2 separate regions of the Homo sapiens genome follow, and region 1 is linked to region 2. The links come from fine-mapping of genetic effects on gene expression. A gene starts in region 2. The other region holds a variant in brackets. All regions are shown on one strand. Distances are between the middles of the regions.

Region 1 (11,609 bases), 34 kb after region 2:
TTTACTTTTGGGTAACCATAGGGAAGAACAATTACTGCATTTTCTTTTTATATGTTTGGCACTTGCAATTATTTACGTGAAACAAAGCATTCCTATCTAAATGTATTGACTGATTAATAATAATGTTTTAGTTTATTCTTTTTATCTACTCTTTAACCAACATCTCCTCACTTCCCCCAATAATGTTTTTTGATTTGGTAAGAACTAACAAGAGCTCAGGCTTTGATGTTAAGATAGCGTGGGTGTGAATGCTGGTTTGGTCACTTACCTGCTGTGTGACTGTGGACAGGTTACTTAACCTCTCTAAAATTCAGTGCTTTCAGCTGTCAAACGGGTGATGATAATAGTGCTGGGAGGATTAAATGGGATAATACACATGAACTAACTGCTTAGCATAGAATACAAGATGCTTCTAAAACTGTAGCATACTGCTTGGCACAGAGTAAGTACAGTACTCCAAAAATGTTCTTATTATGTTTGTATTTTATATTTTGAGGTAGACTTAGATTTGGTTTTATCTTTTGTATTTAAACAAGGACTTATCAGATACCTCTCAAGACTTCAGTTTCTTATGTAAAACTGCCTATTCTGAAACTTGTGAAAATGTTCATGGTATTAAGTGATATGTTAAGTTTTAGATAGGTATATATTCAACAAAACCTGCTGAACTTACGTATCGACAGAGCCAGGCATGGTCCTAGCAGTCCTTCAAGGCTTTTATACTTGCTGTTTCACCTGCTTGGAGTACTTTATCCATGGATTGCTTTCTCCCTCATTTCATTCAATTTCTGCTTAAATGTTACCTTAACAGAGTTGGAGAGGCTTTTGCTAACACCCTATTTAAACTAGCACCCCATACTCTGTCACTCTGTCTCTTTACCCTATTTTACATTTGTTCTTAGCCTGACTTATTATGTGTGTATATATGTATAATGTGTTTCTTTGTTTCACGACATAAGCTCCGTGAGAACCTTTTTGTTTGATCTTTGTATCCCCGGGGTCTAGAATGGTACCTGGCACATAGTAAGAGCTGAGTGAATTTTTGTTGTTTTTTGATAGAAATAAAGCACTTTTTCTGTTCTCAGTGAAACAGATGTGTAAATGCATTGTTTTCTTCAATATAATAGTTTGAAAGGACAACCTGTAGAGTTTGAGGAACATTGTTTTGTGCAGGAGACAGCAATGTTGTGGTGCCACTGTATATCCTTACCTTTTTAGTACTGTCAAGCAGTGTCATATGTGGATGGTTTTATTTTTTTGGTTTGGAATAGCGGTCAGTCAGGTTTAAAATCTAGAATAAGTAATTATATTTTCACTAACATGGTTTTAACCTTTTAAAATCTTAGATATTTTTGAAGATTATGCTTCTCCCACCACAGCAGCCCAGACTCTCTTATATACTGCTGCAAAGAAAAGAAAAGAGGTATTTCATTTTTCTTTTTAAATCCAAAACTGAAAGGTGGCCTGTGTTGAGTTGATACTCTAGTATATCCCTAGTATTTGAGAAATTATGTTGTTATTCGTTATAATTTGTCACCTTAAGGATTTTTTTTTTCCTCTCCTGGTGAGGGGAAAGGGGGTATCATGGTTATTTCGTTTTCTTAATAAATTATACTTTTCTTATTGAGCTTATAGTTGCTTGATAAAACATAATAAAATGGCTTTATTTTTAAAAATTTGTGCATCATAGTTAATACTATAGTAAGACAATGAAAGTTCATGTAGACTAAATGGATTCTTCTGTTTCTTTAGGTGTTGCCAAAAATGATGGCATTCTGTTATCAAATCCTGACAGACCCGAACTTTGACCCTAGGAAGAAAGATGGAGCCCTGCATGTGATTGGTTCCCTAGCTGAGATTTTACTGAAGGTTAAGATAATCAAAATTTAATTTACTTAATAACATTGTAAAGTACAGGCAAATGAGAGAATATGAAAGTTATGGCTAATTTAAAGCTGGTGACTACCTCTGGATAATTGAGTTCACAACTATCCTCCTTTCTGTCATCTATTTCTTTAATTAAAAAGAAAATTTGACTGTTTAAAGTTTTCAGTATGAAACTATTGATATGTGAAAGGGATACAAAGTATCTTATGTCTACAAAATCAATCAATATCAAACTGATATAAGGTAATATTTGTCTTGTTTTAAAACATGCAATATATAGGTCAAATAATTTTACAAAATTAGAAGTATATTAAATGCAAGTCATAGTAAACACACTTGATTAGGAAGTGATTCTTACGTATGAAAAAGAAATTGATAAGTTGAAATTTGTTTCCTAATAGAAGAGTTTATTCAAGGACCAAATGGAGCTGTTTCTACAAAATCATGTATTTCCATTATTATTGTCTAACCTGGGATATCTTCGAGCTAGAGTAAGTTTTTCATATTTCTGTTATGTATCTTAAATCTTCATAAGATAATTATTCAAATAAATGTTTTTTGGATAAATTGACCTTTTGCCACATATTGAGATGAAATAGAGTCAATTAGAATGTCTGCCTATGGTCACATCAGCTGAATAAAGGACAGACTATTAAAGAAAAAGATTTATAGGCTGGGCGCAGTGGCTCATGCCTGTAATCCCAGCACTTTGGGAGGCTGAGGTGGGCGGATCACTTGAGATCGGGAGTTTGAGACCAGCCTGGCCAACATGGTGAAACCCTGTCTCTACAAAAATACAAAAAATTAGCTGGGCTTCATGGCAGGCGCCTGTTATCCCAGCTACTAGGGAGGCTGAGCCAGGAGAATTGCTTGAACCCGGGAGGCGGAGGTTGCGGTGAGCTGAGATCGTGCCACTGCACTCCAGCCTGGACAACAGTGAGACCCTGTCTCAAAAAAAAAGGAAAATATTTATGGATTTTATTTCCTGCTGGTTTTATTTCATTTGTCACCCTAGCCTCACTTGCTGCATATGTAAAACATGAAATGAGAAAGGTGATTTTATAGCAGTGATACAATTTAAATTCACAAATGGATTTATTTTGTGTATAAAATGACATGAAATTCCAGATTGGCTAAGAACTTGAATTTGATTTTCAGTATATTAGGTAGATTTGCCTTAGTAAAATGGAGAGATTAATAATCCATGTGAAATTGTGCTCTATGTGTATATTCTTTTAGAATCAATATATTTTATGGAGAAATAGAAACAGGACTTTTATTCAAGAGCCTAGCATTTCTCTTTATAAATATATCAACACAAAAATGTCTTGCTAAAAACAACATATATTAACAATGCCTTGTACACTAGAAAGCATTTTATAAAATAATAGTTACTAGCGCAATATCTGGGCAAATGTGGACTAGGGACGCTGAGGGCACATGAGCATTTTTACAGTGGGGCTCCTACCTTTGAGAAGTTATATGAATTGTGATTCTCTTGCTAAAAGTCTTTAGTAACTAGAATTAATTTCTGTTGATTGTGTTTGATGCACACAGAGAGTAAAATATAATAATGATTCTGTGGTCTAATAGTTAAAATGTGATCATCTATACCAGGTTTAAAATTTTTGGTACCTATGAGAGTGAAAAAAAGGAAGCTTACTAAACCAGTTAGTGTAAGGGAAAATAATGTTTTACCTAAGTGTGACAAATGAATTTCAGATACTGGTTTGGAGTTGCTTTTACATATAACAAATTAATTATGAGTTATAATATTTATTAAAAGCGTAAATAGATTTTTGTCAAAGACATATTTGGCTTCTTTTTCTCTTTCCTATGAAAAATGTTATTGCATATGGGTAATTTAGAAGTAATGAAAATGCCTTACTTGTAAAAAGGGGGATGTAGAAGTTAGAAACTAAGGCTACTGTGTTACCCCAAAAGCAAACATTTCTTCATAGAATTGATATTTTACTAAGAAGTTCTTATATCTGTGATATTATTACAGAATGCTATAATCCTAATAGCTCCCTACTTACCTTTTTTAATAATACAGTCTTGCTGGGTACTTCATGCATTTAGTTCTTTGAAGTTCCATAATGAGCTCAATCTAAGAAATGCCGTTGAATTAGCGAAGAAGAGCCTGATTGAAGATAAAGAGATGCCTGTCAAAGTTGAAGCTGCCCTTGCTCTTCAGTCTTTAATTTCTAACCAGATACAAGGTAAAGCCAAAATACCTTTTAGACATCTTCTCAAATAATTTCATTTACTTTCTTCCCTAATGAAGATGCATCTCCATGTCTGAGGGTTCAGGGTTTGGAATTCTGAGGTTTTGCCCTCTCAGAATTTTGTAGGAATTTATTCTTGTCCTTTTTAGGTGTTCCTATTGACTGTAGTTTTCAGAATTTTAGGTTAGGAAACATGTTAATCATTGTGGGGCCCTAGGATAGGCTGGGCATAAAGAGACCTGGGCCCAGTTTTGATTTTGCTCCTAACTTGCCATGGAAACCTGGGCAAGGTGTGTGATCTGTCAAGGCTCAGGTTTCCACATATTTAAGTTTAGGGGAGTTGGACTGAATGACTTCATGATTCCTTTCACCTCTGGGATTCTGATTCCCCTAGTTTTGAAAGTAGCAAGTAGTATTTCTAGTGAGTGATAACAGACGTCTCATTTGTTCAG[T/AGT]GTTCTGATCAAAGTTCAAATAAACCTTTGAAAGTAAGTTCAGCTTTATGAAGAACGTGAACGTAGTTTGCCTCTATTCAGCAATGTTTCAGTGGGAGGATTGGATATTGTACACATGGCAAGGGAGGGTGGTAGAGATGGCCTGGGGCAGGGAAGGGGCCCCATCAGTATTCGGGATAGTCTTCACGTACATGATTTTTTATAACTTGTCATGAGAACTGATTCATGTTTTCCAAGTCATTCTGATGACCAAGTGTATGTATAATTAGAATTTCTCAGTGGGGGCTATTAGTATTTTGGGATAGTTTCTGCACAGGACAGTTCTCTCCTGTGCAGGACTTCTTATCCTTATATTACTCTTGGGAAACTGATATATTGGTGAACATTATTTAGGTACAGCTTTGTAACTTACCACAGAGCAAGTGTGTATCTAGAACCTGATTTAGGTATTACCCTGGGTCACTTGACCTTGTGACCAAGTTAATTCCTTTTATCATCTGGGCATGGTAATTTTTATTACTTTTGTTTGTTTTATTGAATTAGCTAAGGAATATATGAAGCCACATGTGAGGCCTATTATGCAGGAACTGTTGCACATTGTTAGAGAGACAGAAAATGATGATGTTACTAATGTCATCCAGAAGATGATATGTGAATACAGTCAAGAGGTAGCCTCAATTGCTGTTGATATGACCCAACACTTGGTAAGACCGGGCAGTTTTATGTTAATTTGGTTTAGAAACCTTGAGTAATCTAAATAAACTCCAAAATATGGAGTTCAGTTTTATTTGTACAGTCATGTGCTGCTTAACAACATTTCAGTCAATGACAGATTGCATATACGATGGTGCACTCCTAAGATTATAATACCGTATTTTTACTGTACCTTTTGTATGTTTAGATACAAATAATTCCATTGTGTCATGATTGCCTAAGTATTCACTACATTAGCAAACTGTATAGGTTTGTGGCCTTGGAGCAATAGGCTATGCCATCTAGATTTGCCTAAGTACATTCAATGATGTTCAAGCAAGGATGAAATTGCCTAACGACACATTTCTCAAAATATATCCATGTTAAGCGATGCATGACTGTAACTGAAATATTGATAAAAAAATTATTCTGATATTACTATAGTTCATTAGACTTTAATCACATTTAGGATAATTTCTTTCATCTAGAATATTCTGAAATTTTATAATATGTGCTTTCTAAAGTTTTAATTTCTGGGCTTTGAATCAGGAAGCTCATTTCCTTCAGTTTGGGGCAATTTATTGTTTTACTTTTTTGATAAATTTCTCCTTACTATTTTTTTTTCTGTTTGTATTTCCTGATATGGAGAATCACATCTGGACTGTGTCTCTTAATTTTTTTAAAAACTTTTCCTCCTGTTTTCCATGTCTGTTTTTTTTTTTTGTTTGTTTCATTTTCTAAGTGATTCCTCGACTTCTCAATCTTCTATTGCATTTTTCTTTTTACTATTACTTGATTTCACTTGTCCTAGATTGTGATTTTACTTGCTTAGTGACAACCAGAAGTTAAATATTAGCTCTCTGGATATAATAGTTAATGTAAATAGCTATATTTAAAACATGACAAGTTCTGTTATTTTAAGAAGAGAGATGATTCAGTCAGCAAAGTGCAGACTTCAAAGTTTGAGCAATGCAGACTTCAGATGTGTGACACTGCCATTTTGCTAACTTTTGTAAAGCGGGGACGTAACAGTACTACTAATTGCGGAATACTTTAATGTTATTTTCATAGGCTGAGATATTTGGCAAAGTTCTTCAAAGTGATGAATATGAAGAAGTTGAAGACAAAACAGTAATGGCTATGGGAATTTTACATACCATTGATACTATCTTAACAGTTGTAGAAGATCATAAAGAGGTGAGATTTCTTTGTGGTTTATGATATAATAGTAGCATTTAACTGAAATTTATGTGATCAGTGGCCATGAATTTTGAAGTCTCCACTTTTAAATTGCTACTTAGTTATGTTGCTAGGCTTTAAAAATTGCCCTCACATTTTATGGAAACATATTAAAATGACTGAGTAACATTATAATATTACATCATAATATTTGTAATATTATAATGTAAATATTATAAAGTATATAGTATATCCCTTTATATTAACTTGAGTTCAGTTAATCATATCTGCTATGTGCCAGGCTAGGTTCTTGGGGAATACCAAATTGAATAAGAAATGAGCCCAGCTTTCTGGGAACCAACAATCTAGAATTCTTGGTAGAGAGTGACAGACAGCAGTTCAATCACAGTGGCAAGTGTTAGGTAATGGAACAGAATTCTGATATAACAAGTACTGTAAAAATGGAAAGGAATAAATGAAAGAGCTGAAAAGCATATTTACTCAACTGAATTCCAAAGTGTTATTGGGATAAGACTTTATACAGCTATTTATCTAGTGCTTTCACATCCATCAGCTGATATGATCTTACTGGTGCCACCATGACATAGCTAGCACAGGTAATGGTAGTCTGTTTTGCAGAAGCAGAAAACAAAGTTCAGGTGGATTTAAGAAACTTGCTCATGGTCCCAGAGCTAGTAAGTTGTACATTTGGGTTTGTAGTCACATCATTTTGATAATGTATCAGTTTATCCCCATTTAAAACCTACAGCTGCTTCCCAAGTATCCCATGGCCTCTCCTTAACTCAAATTAGATTTTTGTTCATTGCTTCTGTGAGTGCAAGTTGACTTGTTTGGCACTGATGGCAATTATTGTTTTACAAGGTGAGCACTTAGGAAGCAGGTGCTAGTACTACTTTTATTTGTTTATTTAATTTTTTGAGACAGTCTCACTCTGTCACCTAGGCTGGCGTGCAGTGGCATGATCTTGGTTCACTGCAACCTCCACCTTCCGGGTTCAAGCAATTCTCCTGCCTCAGCCTCCCGAGGAGCTGGGACTACAGGTGTGTACCATCACACCCAGCTAATTTTTATATTTTCAGTAGAGATGGGGTTTCACCACGTTGGCCAGGCTGGTCTTGAACTCCTGACCTCAGGTGATCCACCCGCTTCAGCCTCCCAAAGTGCTGGGATTAAAGGCATGAGCCGCCATGCCTGGCTGCTACTACTACTTTAAATAGCATTGTTAAACCATGTAGCTGTTGGGTTTTTTTTTTGATTTTGTGGGTTTTTTTTTTTTTTGTTTTGAGACAGAATCTCACTCAGTCACCCAGGCTGGAGTGCAGTGGCTCAGTTTCTGCTCACTGCAAGCTCCGTCTCCTGGATTCACGCCATTCTCCTGCCTCAGCCTCCCGAGTAGCTGGAACTACAGGTGCCCGCCACCATGCCCAGCTAATTTTTTTGAATTTTTTTTATTAGAGACGGGGTTTCACCTTGTTAGCCAGGAGGGTCTCGATCTCCTGACCTCGTGATCCGCCCACCTCGGCCTCCCAAAGTGCTGGGATTACAGGTGTGAGCCACCGTGCCCAGCCGTAGCTGTTGGTTTATCCTGTGTTTATGACGTGCCAATGGAAGATGACTTGGTTTTTTTTTTTTTGTTTATTTGTTTGAGACAAGTCTTGCTCAGAGACAAGTCTTGCTCTGTTGCCCAGGCCGGAGTGCAGTGACACAATCTCAGCTCACTTCAACCTTGGCCTCCCGGTTCAAGTGATTGTGCTGCCTCAGCCTCCCGAGTAGCTGCCTGCCACCACGCCAGGCTAATTTTTGTATTATTAGTGGAGAAGGGGTTTCACCATGTTGGTCTGGCAGTCCTGGAACTGCTGACCTGAAGTGATATGCCCGCCTTGGCTTCTGAAAGTGCTGGGATTATAGGCATGAGCCACTATGCCCGGCTGACTTGGTTCTTAAAAATGGCTTGATAAGGCCCGGCGCGGTGGCTCATGCCTGTAATCCCAGCACTTTGGGAGGCTGAGGCGGGTGGATCACGAGGTCAGGAGATCGAGACCATCCTGGCTAACACAGTGAAACCCCATCTCTACTAAAAATACAAAAAATTAGCCTGGCGTGGTGGCGGGCGCCTGTAGTCCCAGCTACTTGGGAGGCTGAGGCAGGAGAATGGCATGAACCCGGGAGGCGGAGCTCGCAATGAGCCGAGATCATGCCATTGCACTCCAGCCTGGGGGACAGAGCGAGACTCTGTCTCCAAAAAAAAAAAAAAAAAAAAAGGCTTGATACTCTTCTGGACTAGTCTTCATTTGCCTAAAGGGCTTAATTTTTATTTTCATTTTCATTATTTTATTTTTGTGTCCTTCTGTATTGAAACTAAATGGTCCTCTTGGTAACAGTGAGATGTTCCAAATTAAATTACAAGTAAATTTAAGGGATAGTTCTTTTGTCTTATACTTAGGACTTGTATTTTAAATTTGAAGAGACCTTAGAAATCACCTTATCCAGTTTTCACAAGTGTGTGTGGGGCGTAGTAGAATGAGCTGCAGGGGTAGTTTAAAAACAAAACAGCATCTTTTCTGTTTTTATTTTTTCTCTTGATATTAAATTTATTTTGAATTCCAAATAATGTTAAAGGGACAGGTGAACTTATTGTGATTATCAAGAGAGGCATGGGTGAAAATTGAGACACACTAATATAGCATCCTTACCTAAAGACAAAAAAAACCTAAAGCCTTCAGCTAAATGGCTTTACCAAGGCCATGAATAATTACAGGCAAAACCAACCGGAATCTTCGTCTCTTGACCAAGATTTTGAGCTTTAACTTATTAAAAGCAAACTTTGAAAACAATATTTCCTTAAAAGGAAAAACCACATTTATGAAACACTGACAAATAGTGTATGAAACACAAAATTGTGAATCTAAAATAGGTGCTTAAGCATATGCATTTTTGTTTAATGGTTTTAAGCATATTGACAGTTTTTTAAAGTGGGAAATTTTGGATCATTTGAACCTTAAGACAGTAGTTTAAGTTGAATATTAGAATATACTTGATGGTTGAAATAGGACATTTACACGAAAAATGTAACCCGTCATAGATTTTAACTTATTTTAAAATATTTGATACCAACATATGTTGAAAAATTCAAAAGATGTGAAAAGAAAATTCAGTGAAATTTTACCTTCTCACTCAACTCCCCAGCTATCTAATTCTCCTCTCTGGAAGCAGCTATTTTTTTCCTTTTTTTTAAACCAGGTTTTCGGGTCCTTCTAGAGATTTTTCTATTAACATATAAGCAAAAAGTGAATGTGTATATTTTTCTTTTACGAAAATGATAGCATGCTATACACAGTTTTTATTTGCCATTTTTAACTTAATATATCTTGATGATCCTTCCATGTCAATCAATAAAGTTATATATTTTTAATGGTTGCTTAATATTCCCTTGTATGATGTGTCAAATTTATTTCACCAGTCCCGGTTTAGTGGATATAATTTAACTGTCTCTTGTTTAAATGGGCATTTGATTGCTAGTAATCACAAACATTGCTGAAATGAATGAATGGCCTTTTATGTGTCATTTTGCACACATAATATGTGTGAAGGGTAAATCCCTTGAAGTGGAATTGCTGGTTTGCATCGTCATTTGTATGGGTAAGTTTGAAGGATGTTGCCAACTTGTCCTTCATTGTGTATACCATTTACACTCCAGAAATCAATATACAACAGGGTCTTTCTTCCCAGCCCCATAATTGTGATCATTTCCAGTCTTAATAGGTGAAAATTGTTAATGTTGCACTTGGAATTTGTACTCTTACCATGTATTATAACGAACATCTTTTTATAAACACAGGCAAAGATTATAAAAAAAGAAACACATTTGTTTTCTATTGTATTTCAATTTTTAAAAATTCACTAATTTTATGTAAGGGGAATTTGATCTTTGTGATACCATTTGAAAATATTTCACTCATTTTTTTTTACTTCCCCATGCCCCATGCAAAATTCTTTAATTTTTTAGTCAGATGATTTCATTCTTTTCATTTCTTATTTCTGGGCTTTGAGTCACTTTCCCTTTTCAGGATTATACAATAATTCTTTTTATTCTATTTTTTTATGGTTTATTTCTTCACACTGAAATCTTTTATCTATTAGGAATTTATTTTGGTATAAAATATATGGTAAGGAACTAATATAAATTGTTATGGATTTTACCCCCATTTCTGTCAGTCTATTTTTCAAAATTTTCTGATTATTCTTGCATGTTTAGTTTTTCACATGAAGTTTAGAATTGTCAAGTTACCGTCTCAAAAATGTCCTCTTGATATTTTTATTGGCACAATATTAAATTTATGTATTAATTATGATAATTTTAAGCTTAATATTTAACATTTATCTTTAGATTACCCAGCAGTTAGAGAATATCTGTCTACGGATCATTGATCTTGTTCTGCAGAAACATGTAATTGGTAAGTTCAAAGGTTAAATAAAAAGATAAATTGAAAAAATTTTAAAAATTTGAACTCAAAGTATAATTTTAGCCCTTCAGATTTAACAAGATGGACAATTTTGAGAAAGAGAAGCATAATCACTTCAATTTTTGGATGTCCTTTCTAGTGTTAAATATCTGTATTTTCATTCAGAGATAAAAAATTATACATCCAACGAATAATTTTTGATTTTAGAATTTTAAAGGACAGTAATTTTAAATTGTACATTGCTAGAAATGAACTGGGATGAGGTTTAGGTGAGGTTACCTTAATCTGGGATTGAAAAATGTTTAATAGGCATTTTTTAAAATCAGAAATGTGAAATGGCTGGGCACCGTGGCTCACACCTGTAATCTCAGTAGTTTGGGAGGCTGAGGTGGGTGAATTGCTTGAGTCCAGAAGTTCAAGACCAGCCAGTGCAACATGGTGAAACACTGTCTCTACAAAAAATAAAAAAAATTAGCTGAGTGTGGTGGCATGTGTCTGTGGTGCCAGCTACTCTGTAGGCTGAAGTGGGAGGATCACATGAGCCTGGCAGGTAGAGGCTGCCATGAATTGTGATTGTGCCACTGCACTCCCCCTGGGCAACAGAGTGAGATCCTGTCTCAAAGTATGAATTAATTGTCCTATTATCTATTATGGTACCTGACTTCTGAGTAGAATCAGTAACTAAT
Region 2 (11,609 bases):
TCAAGTGTTGGTTTTTAACTCTCATTTTCTCTTTACTGTATGGATTAGATTCAAGCTTACTAACATACACCAACAGATGAGCTGCTGCCAACAGATGGGGAGGACAGCTGTGTGATATTCCATTTAGATGACTAAAATGTTAAATCTCAAAAAAGTCCACAGTGTCAGTGCTTGGAGTAAAAATTACTTTCTGTAATTTGAGCTGTAATCATGCCAGTTATTCTGTATGCTGTATTTCTAGGGTAATGCCATCCACTTCTATGATGTCAACTGCCCTATGTGCACATAAGGCTTACAGCTCTCTTAACTCCATCCCTTTATTTCTTCCTCTTCCACTGGCCATAGCTTCCTGCCTCCCCACTCAGCTCATTGATGAGTTATTCACTGGAAATCTCTAGGCATGTAAACTGTAAGCACTTCTAGTTCAATACATCCAAAGGCTAACTCATCTTTCCTCCAAAATCTAGTTATGTTTTCCCTGGTTAATGACTTCCATAGGTCATCAAAGCTTGAAGCTTTAAAATCATTCTTGACTTACCTTAGTTACTTTGTATACCTAACCCATCACGAATTACTGTTGATTCTTCCTGTGAAATGGCTTATATCTTTTGGCCTTCATGCCTACTGTGGATATCCTGTTTTGGACCCCTTCTCTCTCACATGCATTCACTTACTCATTCAACCAGTGCTGACGGATTGTTTATTGTGTGCCAGGCATAGTGTGAGATGATGTCTGATTCAGCAATTTTGAATAAGGCCTCTCTTCTCTTAAATAGACTACAATGATGTATTTATTGCACATGTCCCATGGGCTTATCTCATCTAGTCCCTAAAACAGCTTTTGGAAGCAGATGAGGAAACAGGCACAGAGAGGGGAGGCATATTTCAAACCATGAAAATACAAGACAATATCACTGGTTCAAATTCTACCTGAAACGAGCTGAGGGCATCAATAAATATAGAAAGCCTCTCATTATGCAAAGTGAAAAAAAAAGATTCAAACAATGAGTCATATGTAAGTTGAACATAAATTATAGTTTAGGGAAAATCATTTTAAAACGCTTGCCAAGAAATCTGAGAGCAGAATCCGAGAGCTCATGGCTTTTTCTGATCTTTCCTGTTTTCTTGGCCACCCCTAATTTGATAGCATTGTATTTTAGTAACTTGTCTTCAGTGAGTCTGTCCAAAGCATACAAAGTTTTCATGGGAACATCAGCTCTTTTTAATTACGTACTTTGGGTAAAATTTTTATTTTGATATAATTGTAGATTCACATGAAGTTGTAAGAAATGATACAGATAGATCCTATGTACGATTTTTCCAGTTTCCTTCAACAGTAACATCTTGTAAAACTATAGTACAACATCACAACTGGGATATGGACATTGATACAGTCAAGAAACGAACATTTCCATCATCAGAATTCCTCATATTGCCCTTCTACAGTCACACCCACTTCCCCCTTGCCACCACCTCCACTTTAACCCTTAGCAACCATGGATCCTTCTATATTTTTTAAATTTTAAGAATGTTATATAAATGGCATTTGACAAGATGCAACCTTTGGGATTGGCTTCTTTCCCTCAGCGTAATTCTCAGAAGATTCATCAAGGTTGCTACATGTATCTTTTTTTTTGTTGCTCAGTAGTATCCCATGGTATAGATGTACCATGTTTATTTAACCATTCACCCACTGAAGGATATCTGGATTGTTTCCAGATTTGGGTTATGATGAATAAAGCTGCATATACACTCACAAGGTTTTTTTTATGAGCACAAGTCTTCATTTGTCTAGGACCAATGCTCTGGAGTGCAATTGCTGTGTCATATGGTAGTTGCATATTCAGTTTTTTAAAGAAACTGCCCAATTGTTTTCAGAAAGGCTGTATCACTGTACATGTTACCACCAACATATAAGTGATCCAGTTTCTGTACATCCTCACCAGCGTTTGGTGGTGTCACCGTTTTTGATCTCTCCTTTTATGTTATTGGAATAACTACCTTAAGTCTCTCCCTTCTCCAATCTATCATCTTCAGTGCTGAGTTCAGTTTTAGACATGTGCCTTAAGTGATTTGAGGGATAGATATTGGTAGAAATGTATAGGCATTTGGATATATTTAGTTTAAGGGAAGAGATCTTACAACTAGTTTTGTAAGCTATCTTTGTTTAGTTGATGGTTAAAGTTATGTAAGTGGATGAAATTACTGAAAAATGGGTGGATGAGAAAGAGAAGATGGCTGAGGACAGAGTCCTGAGAAGCGTCGAAGACTTGGGCGATTGAGTAATCAAAGGGTTAGGAATGTATTCTGTAAGAGAAAACAAGAAAAGAGATAATTTAAAAATAGTATGAAATATGATACCGGATATTAGAGGCTGGGTGTGGTGGCTCACACCTGTAATCCTAATTTGGGAGGCTGAGGCTGCCAGATTGCTTGTGCCTAGCAGTTTGAGACCAGCCTGAGCAATGTGGTAAAACCCTGTCTCTACTAAAAATAAAGCTGGGCGTGGTGGCATGTGCCTGTAGTCCCGGCTACTTGGGAGGCTGAAGTGGGAGAATTACCTGAGCCCAGGAGGTCGAGGCTGCAGTGAGCAGTGATCATGCCTCTGCACTACAACCTAGGCAATGGAAGTGAGACGCCCTCCCCCAATCTCTCAATCTCTCTCTCTCTCTATACATACACACACACACACACACACACACACACACACACACGCGCGCGCGCGCGCGCGCGAGAGAGAGAAAATTTAAGTTGAGAACTAAAAATGTCTCTTGCAGTTGGTATACCCCCTAAAGAGGTCGGTGTTCATCTTTGCTTGGCAGTTTTAGTGGGAAATGAGGGGGAGAAGCCTGGGGATAGGTGGTTGAAGCATGAATGGGAAGTAAGCTGACACAGTGAATGAAGACCATTCTTTGGAATGAAGTGGAAAAGAATGAGCAATAATTAGCATTACTGAAGATTATTTTTTTGCTGGGGGAAATGTTTTTAGGCTGAGGTTGAATCAGTGGAGGAAAAGAGGCTGAAAAAGTACGAAAAAAACTTACACATTGTCAACAATGAGCACATTATAATGACTAAAATTTATTTTAATGAAAAAATGTATTTAAGAGAGGAGAGATTTATGGAACAGGGTCCTGGAGGAGATGGGAGAGAATGGGGTTCAGACTGCAGAGGAGATGAAGAGGGATAAGCGGAGATGAATTTGTTGTTGAGTTGAGCCTGAGGGTTTTGCTCATCTTTGCAGGGTTTGGTGAGAAGGCGTAGGGAGCTTGAGAAGAGTCCTGAGAGTTGAAACGCCACTGAGGGAATGGAAGATGTTGCTGATTAAAGGCAAGGAATAGGAATAGGATGGTTGCATCTGATTAAAGAATACATCTGATATCAGTTTGCACAGTGGGTCAAGGCTAGAGTTAAGAAGCTGAATTGGGGGTTTAATAGCAGAGAATGATGTGTAGTGAGTAATGGATAGACTAAGAACTGAAGTAGTGATTGAATTGGAAAACAAGCTTAGAATTTTTGAGGAAGAGAGAAATGGAAGAATTAGTTCTAATTATAAAAGAGGATATTGGAGTTAAGATTTTCAGAGATAAAAAATTTTTTAGACATTCATGATGTCCAAGAGAGTGGTTTAGTGAAATAGTGTTCATAAGACTCTGGAGTGCTAAGTTTATATTTTATTTTGAAATTGATGAGAAATCAAGGAAGAGACATAGTAATATTAACTTTTCAGAAACTTTCTTCTGATGATAGTGTGAATAATGGATTAAAGAGGGGCAATACTGGAAGCAATTAGACATGTTAAATTCACTGTGAAGCACTTTTGCATCCAACTGAGGGGGAAGCTTTCAAGCCACCAAGTTTTCAGCCACATGTTTTCTACTCTCTCAATTGAACTCAGTTAATTGACCCAATCTATCTTAATTATCTGCTCCTGAAAAGATCACAGCCCCTCAGCTGTGTTTTGCCCACATCATCATCTTTATTAAATGTAATTAGAACCCTCTCTTCTGGGTTAACCTCAGGAAGAACCAGCTCCTTGATATTTTCATGCCATTGAAATTGTGGCGCCAGATATGGCCACAGTGGATAGAAACAGTATAACTTTTCTGCTTACCTTTCACTACATTTTTGAGAAGGTCTGAAAATTTTTCATAAAACTCTCAGGGATGTAGTTTTCAGTTTCTGTGACCTTTGTCTTTCTGAAATGGGAGAGGTTCCCTTGTCCCCCTCACAGGGCGTGCATTGGGGGTGTGGCTCGCTTCTTCAGTGCCCCGCTGCTCAGACCTCTAGAGAAGCATACAGACCGGCAGGCTGTGGGGCTCCGACCCCTTGACAGAGTCTGGGGGTGAATGTTTACAGCTCCTGAAGCCCCAGTGGGTGTGTGTTACAGGATGCTCTTTCAGTTTGCCTTTAGGGGGCTTGTGTTAACCAGCTCAATTAGACCCTCTACCTTGTCGCACAGACAGCGAGCTTTCTGTATCCTGGGTTCTTGCCTTGGTGTACCAGAAGAATTGGATCACACGTGGGCTTGGAGAATGAGTGCAAAGTTTTATTGAGTGGAAGTAGCCCTCAGCAGATGAGGGACCCAGAAGGGAAATGGTTTTCCTCTGGAGTTAGGCCGCTTGGCGGCCCGGGCTCTTTTCCGACTGCCCAGGCCAACCTCCGCATCGTTCTGCCCGTGAATGGCCTGCGGATGTGCCAGCGAGCTCCTCTTCTTCCACCCTTATGCTCCTCTGGACGTCTGGCTGCCTGTGTACCTGCCTGCTAGGGTCTGGGGTTTTCATAGGCACAGTATGGGGGAGTGGCAGGCCAGGGTGGTCTTGGGAAATGCAACATTTGGGCTGGAAGGCAGGAGTGTCAGTCCTCACCTAGGTCGGTGGGCGTGGAGCCCTAGCAAGGGACCACACACTCCTCTACCCAGCACTTCACTTCGCCCATCCCTATCATTTAAAGGGACCACGCTCTTCCCTTCCCAGCACTCCCCTATCATTTCTACACTGTAAATTTTTTTTGTTTATATTTGTCTCATCTATCAGGTTGTGAATTCCTTCACATTAACTTGCATGGAATTCATCTTGTTATAATGTGGTACCTAAAAATCCTAGTACTCTGGTTCAAAAATATATGTTTAACAAATGTTCAGTGAAAGCGAATGAATGAATGAACGATGACTCCCACACACGGAGGAACCCTGTCCTCCTGTAAGGTACATGATTTGAAGGTCCCAACAAGTCTATCTTGGAACAGGCCCAGTTGCGATGCCCATACAGTTCTCGGACTAACAAAAAGTGTCACACCATCCAGATATGCTTAATTTGGAAGCAGCTGTAAGCAGACTCCCGGCCAGCTCAAGTTTCCTCACCTGGGAAGAGGCGGGAGGCTGTTTACCGTACGGAAGCATAGCGGCCGCCTGCCTGAGTTCGGGAGCGCGGGTTCCTTTCCGGGAAAGAAGCCTAGGCCGTTTTCCGTACAGCAGCATGGCGGCCGCCGACGGGAGGCGGTCATAGCATCACGCCCGGGGGAAGAGGCCGCCGTAAAGGAAGCTCTGCTTCCTCTTCTTCCTTCTCCCGCCTCCCACCGGCTGTCGTAAAACGGTGAATGGAGAGCGAGTTGTGGGGGGGAAAAAGGGAGGACAGGGGGCGCGGAGTCAGAGTGGCGCAGCAAGTGGCCGCAGGTGGCGACGGTGGCGGGGGGTGGGGTGTGAGGTAATCCAGGGGTCGCGGAAGAGGAGGCTGAGAGGGTCAAAAGAAAACTAAAGCTGCAGTCCGGCCTACTGTTCCGGGGGCCGCGGAGCCCCCACCCGGGGAGATGGACCTCAACCGGATCATCCAGGCGCTGAAGGGCACCATCGACCCGAAGTTGCGGATTGCAGCCGAGAACGAGCTCAACCAGGTGAGGAGAGGGTCTTCGGCGACCCTCTTCCGCCGAAGGGGCGCCCCTGCCGGCTGGCCGGGCTCCCTCTCCCCGGCGCCCCTCGTCCTCACCCCCACCGGGCTGGGGCTGACGCCTCACGGCTGGTCCCGCTCTCCGACCCCGCTGCCCCCCGGTCCAGTGGAGCAGGGCTCCCAGGATCTTTGCCGAACAGCTCGCGCACCTGTTGGCCACCTTTGCACCTTTTCGTGTCGTCTCCCTTCTCCAGGGCAGTTTGTTCTGCCTACTTGGTCCGCAAGAAGCAGTTTTTGCAACCTGTGCTAGTGTTTTCAGGGTGTGATTTATTTTCCTTAAGTGCGCGGACTTGGGGAGCAGGTGGGAATTTTACTTACAGTTCAAATCTGAGTTCAGCTTTTTTCCAAACCCAGCCCTTTTTAGGTGTTGCTGTGGAGCACGCTGCCCACCGCCTCCTCCTGTCGGGTTGGCAGGACTGTTTTGACACCGATTGGCCGAGTTTTGCGGAGCGCTGGGCAGTGCTGTTGGGAGAGTGCTCTGGGAAGAATAGGCAGTTTTCATGGTGATACTGCTTTATCTAAGACACATCAAAGTAAGATGTGTTGGAGAAATTTCTTATGAATGCTAAAATGTGTAAGACTTCTTTCTTTTCTCCGTCTCCTGTTCTTCCTAATTAGCCTTGACGTCTTTCCAGCGTTACCCCCACACTTCAAAATTTTAATGATCCCAAACTCCAGCTTATTTCTTCTTCCCTACCGGTACTTAAGAATCACAGACCTCTTACTAAAAAGTAGGGATTAAGAGCTACCACTGGGATGGAGCAACAGCTGTTTTAGGTTGTGATGACTTGTAAAATGTAAATATTCCAAAATCAGCTGTTCTCAAAGCGTTGCCCAGGACCTGGAGCTTCAGCATCACCTGAGAACTTACAAATTATGCAAATTACGGGGCTTCAGTCCAGACTTAACGAATCAGAAACTGTGGGGGTGGGACCAGTTGTATTTTAACTAGCTCCCCCAGGTGATTCTGTGCCTCCCGAAGTGTGACTGAAGTGTGACTGTCCTAAGTAAATGTTTCTGTTGGAATTGACTTTAAAAAGCTGCGTGTTGGGAATCTTTGAAAGGGATTATTTTAATAGGAAACCTAGGTGGAGTTTGGAGTAGGTATAAATGCAGGATTCCCCAGAGATAAAAGGGAGAGTGAAGACACTGCCAATGGAGAGGAGGTTGGGTTGAACTAATGCCCAAAGATAATGCACTGGTGCCTGAAAAAGAAATGGACTGTCACTTAGAATAGGGGGAAGTTAAAGTCAGTACCTGTCCCAGGCTTTGCAGAGTAAAAGTACTGTATGTTGGCTGGCTGGAAGAATAGTAATCCAGGGGTTAGTTAGGAAGAACAAAGCAGGAGCTGAATTTGCAGTCTACTAATATGAACAGGGGAGTTGGCCTGTTTATGACCCCCTTCTCACAATGAGGCCAGGTGTTCCTTTGATATCAGGTTACACTTCCCTGCCCTTCACCTAACCTTCATTTCTTTCTGATTCATCAGTATATAAGTACAGTTGATGTTATAGAAGTGGAAAAAGTATATGAGAAAGCCTGCAGAACTAGGAGACATTTAAGACCCAATCCTATTTTTTTTCCCATGGTATTTCAGACAAAAGCAGGCACGTTCAGGGTGGTATGGCCGTAGACTCTTGATGGTAGTTCAATCCAAATCCATTCCATCATCACTCTGCCCTGCCCCATAGTGTCCCACCTCATCACAGACCGTGGTTTCCCCAGCAATTTCTAAAGGTAGCTTATTGCTATACCACTCATTTAGCATTTATAATTTATATAAAGCATAGTGAAATGCTTTAAGGTTTTTTGAATTGGCTGTAAATAGAACAAAATATAATGTCACCTAACAGTGTAGTAAAACATGCTTATGATGATGGGTTTTGCCTGCTTGTCCTTTGCCACCACTGTAACATCCGACTTTGTTGGATAAATGAGTGGGTAAATCACCATAAGTGGTTATGGTCCACCTCTTCGACTTTAGTCTAGGTCTCCCCTCAGCAAGTATGTTCTGCATAGGGAATGGGAGCAGCTTCTGCGGTATACTGATGGATCTGTCAATTGCCGTTTAGAAAAATAAGCAGCTTCTGCACCACAGCCTATATTCCAATGGATAAATTCTCATTTGGAGCTATATATTTTTTTCAGGCCAGCATTTTTCTGTTACTAGTGAGTAGTTTTCTGACTGCTATTTGTGATATTGTTTCTGTGGGAAAATGTATTTGTAGTTTTATCTCAGGATATTGAGCGAACCCTATACATCTTCCTCATTTTCTATAGACCAGAAGTCCCATTAGAGGCAGCATAGAGGAATAGGAATGGGTAGGTACCTTGCTTAAGTAATTCATCCAGAAAGGTGTCCTCTTTTAATAAATTATCCTTCACATGGCCTCGGTAGGGAAATAAGTTTTTACTTTGATTGCCAAGCTTTTGAATCTCTGCTTTCCATGCATGTGTACATGCAATTTTCATTACCCTTTATTAAGATAATTTGTTTATGTAAATAGCACAGAAATATTTATTAAGTTACTATGTTGCAGATATTGGTATAAGAGTTTGTTTCCATGGAGCTGGGGATACAGGCAAGTAACTAATATAATTTCAGGTCATAAGTGCTGTGGAGAGTAAAGCCCGAGCAAGAGTGTTGGGATGTATAGCCATTCTCTGAAGAATGGCATTGAGTAGAGAGTTGGATGTTGTGAAGGAATGGGCCAGGCAAAGAGCAGAGAGAGGAACAACAGTTCAGAAAAGGCCCTCAACTTGGCGTGCTGGAGGACTGAGAGGGAATATCGGTTCAGAAAAGGCCCTCAACTTGGCATGCTGGAGGACTAGAAAGGTTAATGCAGCGGAGCAGTGAGTCAGAGGATGGGAGGAGACATCAGTTTTTTGCTTTATGAGTTCTCATAAATGCAGAATTTAGTTAAGCAAACTGCGTATTTGCAGAAAACTTCACAGATACAAAATATCCTCAGGAAATCATTGAGAAATTAGTCTTATTTATTTTTTAGAAACTCGAAGCCTGAAGAGGCACAAAGAAATTGAGTAACTATTTCTGAGTAAAGTAGTATGAAAATATATCTGACTATATCTCTGAATGTTTTAGCTGGCCAAGTTAATATAGAATGAATCAATGCTGAAAGAAGACAAGGTTTCTGAAATTTTTTAAAATGGCAAACAGTTGCAAAAAGAGGAGTTTCAAAATCTGTACAATGGCAACAGTGTTGACATAAAAGTCTCTGCAATAGGTATATTACTTTCAAATAAGTAGCATTTATTTAAGTGTAAAGGTTATTTTGTATGTGTGGAATAAGATTTTTAAACAAATAACGGAAGTCAGTTTTTTTATGATTAGAATAAACTATATAGATGTTTTAATCTTTGATTCATGACAAGATCTTTCAGTATTTACAAAGATAAACATGAGTTATAATACATATGTAGAAGGTGAAGGCTGGGTGAATCTGTGTTAATTTTGCCTCCTATCAACGGTTGTTAGAACAAATCTGTTTTCTTAAAAACTGCTTTGAAATTCTGATGGTTTCAATTATGGATAAAAAAGAATTTACATGCCACAGATTTGTGATCTGAAGACTACACAGGATGAAAGGAAGAAAATTATAATTCAAAATTTTGTGAAGGATATAGAAAGATTGGGAAAGCACAATGTTCTTGGATGAAAAAGATTAATATTTTTAAAATGCCAGTTGTGTCCAAATTAATTTTTTAATCAAACACTTACCTTCATAGATGTGATTTTAATTTAAAAAAATGAATAATATGCCCAAACCTAGCTGTGTATTGAAAGGGATGCCCCCACAGATCCAGGCTCTGAGGAGAGGGGTGAGCTGAACAGACTCTCTGGGTCATTGTCTGGTTTGGCCTCACTGGAATTTGAGTCTTTTCAAATGAATGTCAGTGGACAAAGGCATATGTGGACTCTGGAATGTGACAGGACTGTAATATAGTCCAGGTACTGTACATCTGGATATAACGTGATCAGAAGGAGTGGATGCTCTGTATTTTTTTGCTTTGAAGGTCCCCATCGCCAAACTCAGGAGCAGATCATAGTAGAGCACACCTGTGGGGTGAAGTGACCCAGGCCACAGGGCAGAGCAGGAGCTTCATCCCCACAGGCTCACTTAGGCATTAAGTGTAAAAGATAGTACAGCAGTAGAGGGCAGCTGGTGATGACAGTGTGCTCAACCCCATCTCGTGAGTCACACTGTTCCAATCTGGACTGGCTTCTCTCCATTGCTCACGCTCAACTTTGTAACATTATCTTCTCTGTTTTGCTCTGTTGGGTCTCCTATTTCCTGTAGCCTTTGTTTTTTTGTTTTCTGTTTGTCAAAAATACCATAAACAAAATTGAAGCACAAATAATCTAGGAAGAAATACTTGCCATGTATAGGTCAAATAAAAGATTGAGATTTTAAATTCATAAATAGCTCTTAGAATTTATTAAGAATAAAGCAAATACTCCATTTACAAAAGGATAAAGGGAGTAAGGAATTTGTAGAAAAAACAGCCAACAAAGAGGAAAACACCCAACCTCCTTAGTAATAGAGAAAATGCAATTTAAAACATTAATAAAATTTTAAAGTTTCAAAGGAATGATGATACCTGTATTAGATAGATGGACACTACCATATGCTGCTGTTGGGAGTGTAAATTGGTATACTACTTCTGGAGACCATTCTGACAATATGTTAAAAAAAATCATAAAAATGTTCACATTCTTTTATTCATCAGTTTCTGCTCAGGAAATTTTTTTGACTTGAAGTATTTTAGTAATCTTCATTTTGCCTTGAAGGGTTTGTCTCAGTTTAAAAGTTTTTCTTTTATTTGGACAGTAATGTATTCAGTAACCGGTGCTAACTTATAAGCTACTCACTTATATTGCCCTATTTTATAAAACATTTCTTTGTAATTTCAGTCCTACAAGATTATCAATTTTGCCCCCAGTTTACTTCGGATTATAGTCTCTGACCATGTGGAATTCCCAGTACGACAGGCAGGTGAGTTGGTTTTTTATCCTTTATAAATTTATTTATAGGTGAGAGTAGAATGAGAGTTTTATTTTAATTTTACATATCTGTAATTTATTGAAAAATTCAGAAGCACTAGCACTCATGAAGTATTTCCAGTGACTTCAAAACTCACTTTCTTTTTCCCCAGAAATTTAGAGGTAGATACTGAGCTCTCAAATATCTTCTAGCTCTTTTTTTTCCTCCTCTCCCTTTTACCCACCAATTCCTTGCCTCTGTAACTTTGCCCTTATTTTTCTCAATTTTAATAGCTGATCTCTCTAACGTTTTATGATTTCTGGTAGCCTAGCCTCTGGGCCCATAGATTAAGACCATGAATTTATATATGTGAATTCGAGCTCTGTTACGTGGCAAATCATGGAGGTAATGTGTTGCACAGATGTTCCTAACCCAGGTGACTGCGGAGCAGGACTATGTTTTAAACATGAAACTTACTTTTAAGTCTGTGGGATCTTACGTTGTTTCATGATGTTGTACATCGTTCTTTTATCTTGTTTTTTTATGGACTGGTCATTAGAGCCCAGAAGGTTAAAAATTAGAGCCTTAGAGTATCATGAATTTTCAAAAGATAATAATCAAAAGCTAAAGGAGGTAAACGACAATAGCTAATTAAAAATAA

Evidence for each region. PIP is the estimated chance that this variant, and not a neighbour inherited with it, causes the effect.
Region 1: its variant is fine-mapped to the expression of IPO8 in cerebellum (GTEx, PIP above 0.99).

What each region holds. Positions count from the first base shown.
Region 1 is chr12:30,655,989-30,667,597 of GRCh38, reverse strand. It overlaps IPO8 (importin 8), which reads left to right. Exons shown (of 25, transcript NM_006390.4): 11 at 1,347-1,423; 12 at 1,753-1,869; 13 at 2,289-2,378; 14 at 3,944-4,109; 15 at 5,111-5,271; 16 at 6,332-6,457; 17 at 10,848-10,914. Among named protein-coding and RNA genes, the nearest start is that of IPO8, 34 kb to the left of the region's middle. The variant T/AGT (reference allele first, on the strand shown) is at 4,568.
Region 2 is chr12:30,689,847-30,701,455 of GRCh38, reverse strand. IPO8 (importin 8) reads left to right here and starts at 5,587. Exons shown (of 25, transcript NM_006390.4): 1 at 5,587-5,892; 2 at 10,879-10,960. The coding sequence starts at 5,809. RefSeq lists an enhancer at 5,198-5,697 and a silencer at 5,788-5,837.